2 separate regions of the Homo sapiens genome follow, and region 2 is linked to region 1. The links come from fine-mapping of genetic effects on gene expression. A gene starts in region 1. The other region holds a variant in brackets. All regions are shown on one strand. Distances are from middle to middle. Region 1 holds the start of ALPK3 (alpha kinase 3). Region 2 overlaps ZNF592 (zinc finger protein 592).

Region 1 (2,899 bases):
CCATTCTCCAGCCCTTTTCCTAAAAGCCCAGATCCCCTGCCCTCCCCATTCTGCCTGGTTTTCAAGGCACTCTTTCCTCCCTTCCTTCATTGCTGCTGTCTCCAAGAAGGACCCTGGTTCCGCCTCTTCTGTTTGTTCCACTGGTATTGACAAAGGCCAAACACAGGAGGCAAAGCCCAGACAAGTCACTGTGACAAATGTGAGGCTCCCACAAGGGAGTCAGCTTCTCTAAGGACTGGAATAAATGTCCAAATTTCATTCTGGTTTATCTGTAGAGCCAGGAGTAAGAAAAAGGGGTATTCTTTCCTGGCAGCCAGGGGCCTTGTTGAGTCTGACTCAGTCACTAACATCAGTCCTCAGCCCTGCCCCAGACATGTGACACCATTTGACGAGTTTTATGCAGAAACCGGTTCCGGTTACATTTGAACTTTCCCAACTCCAAGGTCAGTAGGACTCAGCCAATTCACGAGGAAGTGCCCAGGACTTTTCCTGAATGTCCTCGATGCCTGTTTTTATGCTGTTTTAGGAATGGAGAACAAGAGGTCTCTGGACAGCCTCTTGGAGGAATGGCCGTTTTCTGCATAATACACAAGTCAAGTTCTCAGGCTATGAAACAACCACTATCTCAACACATTTCCCTTTGGAAAACAGACTCCAGAAGTGAAGGGAAACTGAGCTGCCCACAGGGGGCAGGAAGTGTCTGTCTCCATGGCAATGCGCCTGTCCACGTGTGCCTGTGTGCCTTTGATTTCCTGGATGCCTGTCTATTGTCTTTGTGTCTTTATATCTGTGGGTGGCCTAGCTGCTAAAACAAAGCTTCCACACCTCTTGAACTCTTGGAAGACCAGTGAAGGGCTCATCAGTTCCACACCTCCCTTGGCATTTCACTTCCCCAAACTGGACAGGGCACTTGGCTCCCTCAGAGCTGCAAGTCCTTAATTCCCAACATCTCCAGACAGTACCTCATCCCACCCCCTATCTCACCAGCCCCCACTCAGGTCCTGGGGAGGACCCAAGTCCTCGGCCCAGTAGAGGAACCTTATTTACAAAGGTTTATTTCTTCCTGGAGAACCTCCCCACCCTGAGCTAAGCAGCTCCTACTCTGGGCAGCCCCCCAGCACCCTCTCCCTGTCCCCACCAGTGCTCTCCCCCTCCCTTCCTGCCAGGGAGGAATTTCAGCCACTCTGGCTTTCCTTATCGCTAGCTGTGGAATCCCAAGCCAGGGAGTAGCAGGGTAGGGGGCAGGGGAGATAAGGAAAGCCTTCAGACCCCATGAAATCACTCCAAAGTGGAGCCTTTGTCCTCTCTTGAGCCTCGAATTGCCAGAGGCCTGAGGCGCATGGATCAGGAGGGGTCACAAGGGGCTATGAAAGCCATTCCAGCCCGGCCATGTCCCCAGGCCCTGGGCCTTGGGGCTGAGAGGGCTCGAGGGCGCAGGCCCAGCCCAGGCCTCCAGGGGCCAGGCCGCCCTCACAGGGACTGATCCCAGGGCATCGCCGGCCCGACGCCGCCCTGCCCCTTGGTGCCACTTACCTGGTCTCGGGCCGCACGCTGAGCAGGTAGCTCCGGCTGGCTGGGCTGGGGATCCACACGGGGCCGTCGTCCTCACCGTCGCCCCCCGCCCCCGACCGCCCACCCGCGCCCCAGCCCCGGCTGGGGGCCCTCCGCGACCCCATGGCACCGCCCTCCCCGACCGCCGGCCCCGCACTCGCCGCTGCCTCGCCTGTCCTCCAGGCCCCGGCCCCCGGGCCCCTGCCCGCCGCCGCCGCTCCCGCCCGCGGCTGACGCGCGCCCCTATTTATAGCCGGTGGCCGGGCCGTCGTCACCTGCTGCTGTCCCTCCCCTGGCCTGGCCCGACCCGGGCAGCGCGGCTTGGAGACGCCGGGGGGCGCCGGGGCCCATGTGCCCGCCCCAGGGCCGGCTCCGAGTCCGCTCCCTTGGCGGCCCTGGTGTCTGCAGTAGCGCCGCGTCTGGAGAGGCCCGGGAGGCCTCGGGAGGAAGGCGCAGCGGGTGTCCTGGTCATGGAGGACAGGCCCCTTCGTGGAGCTCCCGGGACCCGGCTCCCGGCCGGCCTGCTCATGTCCCGTGTGGCATATGAGGGGTCCACGAGGCCTGGCCGGGGCCAGGGGAGCCAGGTCAACCGCTGGCCAGCTTGGGCTAGACCGCGGGAGACCAGGGAGCCAAAGAACCAGCCCTCTTCCTGGCACCAGCCGTGACTGACCCTCGCCTTGCCTCGCCAGTGGCTGTTGGCCCAGCACATAGACAAGCCAAGCCACCTCCATTAGTGACCTGAGTCCCTGGGAGGCCGGAACCCCGTGGGATCTCTCTCCTGTCTCCCCCAACACCCCCAGTAACTAGCATAGATTAGGGGCTCAATTAACACTTCTAGATCACTCCTTCGGCCTCCATTTCTCAGCACCAGAGGGGGAAATGGGCTGAGTCCTGATACCCAGAAAAATAATCAAATCATGCAACAATTTCCAAGAACTAGTGCCAAGCACTGCCGAAACCTGGTCTAAATATTGGAAGTCCCCACAGACTTTTTTTTTTTTTGAGACAGAGTCTGGCTCTGTCGCCCAGGCTGGAGTGCAGTGGCGCTATCTCGGCTCACCGCAACCTCCGCCTCCCGGGTTCATGCCATTCTCCTGCCTCAGCCTCCCGAGTAGCTGGGACTACAGGCGCCCCACACCACGCCCGGCTAATTTTTTTCTTTGTATTTTTTAGTAGAGACGGGGTTTCACCGTGTTAGCCAGGATGGTCTCGATCTCCTGACCTCGTGATTCGCCCGCCTGGGCCTCCCAAAGTGCTGGGATTACAGGCGTGAGCCACCGCGCCCGGCCGGAAGTGCCCACAGACTTTTTTATCCATCCTTCTTTCTCCTATTTTCCTGAGAGCATCC
Region 2 (2,899 bases), 31 kb after region 1:
TACTTCCAGTCTACAGGAAAAAATATGGGATATGGAGGAAAAAATTCCCTGCATGAGGAAGTAATCAGTAAAACTCAAAGTTCTGGAAAACTTAGGAAGCAATCAGTTAAACCCAGAATTGTTCTGGAAAATGCTCAGAACACATGACCCAATTTCTTCAACAAGTCAATGGCATGAAAAGAGGGTGCCTACTAGGATGGAGTGGGAAGAGGTACTGTTCCAGACTGAGATATTTATGAAACATAAACAAACGTGATGTATAGCCCCATGTTCAGATCCTGACTCAAAATAATCCCAACTGTAAAAAGACATTTTTTGACATAACTGGAAAAATCTGAATATGAACTTGTAGTAGGTAATACTAAGGGACTGTTATTAATTGTGTTGGGTGGAATGACAATATCCATCTGGCTGACATCCTGCCCCAACAGCGTGGCTTGGAAAGCAAGAGGAAGGATGAAAGAACTCCCTGGGTCACTGCAGAGGGAGGCATGCTCCATTCAGGGGCAGACTCCCAGGAAGAAGATGGAAATCCCAAACCGATGCTGTTCCCACAGTCCCTGCTGTGGTGTGGAGCCCAACTATCTGTCCACCCCCTGCCCTGGACACATGGGCTGAAGCTAGATACTGTCCTGTGGAAAACCCAAGCCCAGCAGCCATCAAGCCTAGTTTTTAATCCCATAGCTCAGGGCTCACCCTTTCCCTGAGACTCAGAAGCCACAATGAGTGGCATGAGATTTTGTGAGGGATTTGGAGCTGGCTGAGAGAGGCCTGATAGCCTTCTGTGCACTCCTTCCCTTCCTGTCGGCGGGTGCTCTTCTCCAGCTCCCACTAGGGCAGAATGACACAGAGAGGATGTAAGATGAGAAAGGTGCCATGCCAGCCTGGGATCCTACACCCAGACCTCTGCCTACTCAAATTTTAGAAGATGCACAAGGAGGCGGGTGTGATGGCTCATGCCTGTAATCCCAGCACTTTGGGAGGCCGAGGCAGGTGGATCACTTGAGGTCCGAAGTTCAAGACCGGCCTGGGCAAACATGGCAAAACTCCATCTCTACTAAAAATACAAAAATTAGCCAGGCATGGTGGCGCACACCTGTAGTCGCAGCTACTCAGGAAGCTGAGGCAGGAGAATCACTTGAACCCAGGAGGCAGAGGCTGCAGTGGGCCGAGATCGCACCACTGCACTCCATCCTGGGCAACAAAGCAAGACTCCGTCTCACAAAAAAAAAAAAAAAAAAAAAAAAAGATACGTAAGGACCAGTGTGAAAAAATCCCAGGCCCAGGCATCAGACCTCCACTGCCATGGGGCCTCCTCATGGCCCCTTGACTCAGATAAAGTAAACCTGGCCCAACTCAACCATGCTGGGGCAGCAAGAACACTGAAGCCCCAGGGGAAGAGACCCAGAGTGCCCACACCCCATCTGACGCATCAGAAGAAAAATGCAAACTGAAACAGAGCAGGAGGAGATGAGAGGCCACAGTGGGATCCTATAGCACCTTCTGGCCCCTTTGGGGGGCTGAGTCCTCTGCAGAAGCCCTACAGGCCCGCCAAACTCAACCTCTGACCTCTACCCTAATATTTCCAAGACCAGCCTCATGCATAACAATGTCCTCTTCTTCAAACCCACTCTGCACTCTCATATTCCTTTGCTCCCTATACTCAAAACACCCTTGCCCCTCCTACTCCTCCAAACTCATCCTTGCAAGCCCAACTTAAATTTCACCTCCACACAGCATCTTCCTTACGCATGGAGTCATC[G/A]TGAATTAGTCCCTCTGGGGCACTCTGCGCAACTAAGTTTATAACCTTGGTTTAGCCCCACTCTCAGTTGGCCATATACTGTAGCTGTTTGGGTGGTGACCACTGCCCTTGCTAGGCCACTGTAAGCTCCTGAAGGTTAGACTCCCTTCTGCCGGCATCCCCTGGTTGGCATAGACCCCCAGCCCATGCACAGTGGGCACTCAGGGAACACATGCAAAGCTCAACAGCTACCAACACATGCACAGAACCCTGGCTGAACTGAAGCAAAAAGAGCTGTTTTACTTTCCTCCCAGGCCTCTGTAGCACCAGCTTAGGGAAGCACCATGAGGGGTGGGTCTGGCTATGTCATGAAGAGAACCACCTTCTGGAGGCCTCTTTCTTCAGAGAAACCACTAACACATAACATAGACACAGAAGGTGCCAAAGGGTATTCTCAGCGCAGAAGGCTTTTTTTTTTTTTTTAAATGAATCTCATCAAGCATAACCAAGAATCAAAACAAGCAGACAAGCACAGTTGCTTTCCTGGAGTGGTGAGAACGCAGTTGAAAGAAGGAGGCTCCATAAACCTCTGCCACAGGCCCCACATGTCTGTCCACTCTCCTTCCTCCTATCCCAGCCCTGCCATTGGCCCTACTGCAGTTTCCACAAAAGGACTCTGCAAGAACAGCTGTGTCACTGCAGGGCAGAACAACAACTTATTAAAGACACAGTTCTTTGGCTGGGGACAGTGGCTCACGCCTGTAATCCCAGCACTCTGGGAGGCTGAGGTGGGCAGATCACTTGAAGCCAGGAGTTCAAGAACAGCCTGGGCAACATGGTGAAACCCTGTCTCTACTAAAAATACAAAAATTAGCTAGGCGTGGTGGCACATGCCTGGAGTCCTAGCTACTTGGGAGGCTGAGGCATAAGAATCACTTGAACCCCAGAGGCAGAGGTTGTAGTGAACTGAGATCCCACCAGTGCACTCCAGCCTGGGTGACAGAGTGAGACTCCGTCTCAAGAAAAAAAAAAAAAAGACAAAGTTCTTAGAACAGACTGAGGTGCAGGGGCAGTGACTCAGCTATCTCTGTCCCCAAGTTCCTTGGTCACATGCTAAGACTGTGCTGACACCTGCCAGAGACCAGAGGGAGATCATCC

The links.
Region 2: its variant is fine-mapped to the expression of ALPK3 in whole blood (TOPMed, PIP above 0.99).

The regions. Positions count from the first base shown.
Region 1 is chr15:84,816,230-84,819,128 of GRCh38, reverse strand. ALPK3 (alpha kinase 3) reads right to left here and starts at 1,773. Exons shown (of 14, transcript NM_020778.5): 1 at 1,534-1,773. The coding sequence starts at 1,676. RefSeq lists enhancers at 1-17, 2,145-2,675.
Region 2 is chr15:84,785,191-84,788,089 of GRCh38, reverse strand. The region is part of intron 4 of ZNF592 (zinc finger protein 592); the gene reads right to left. Among named protein-coding and RNA genes, the nearest start is that of ALPK3, 31 kb to the left of the region's middle. The variant G/A (reference allele first, on the strand shown) is at 1,763.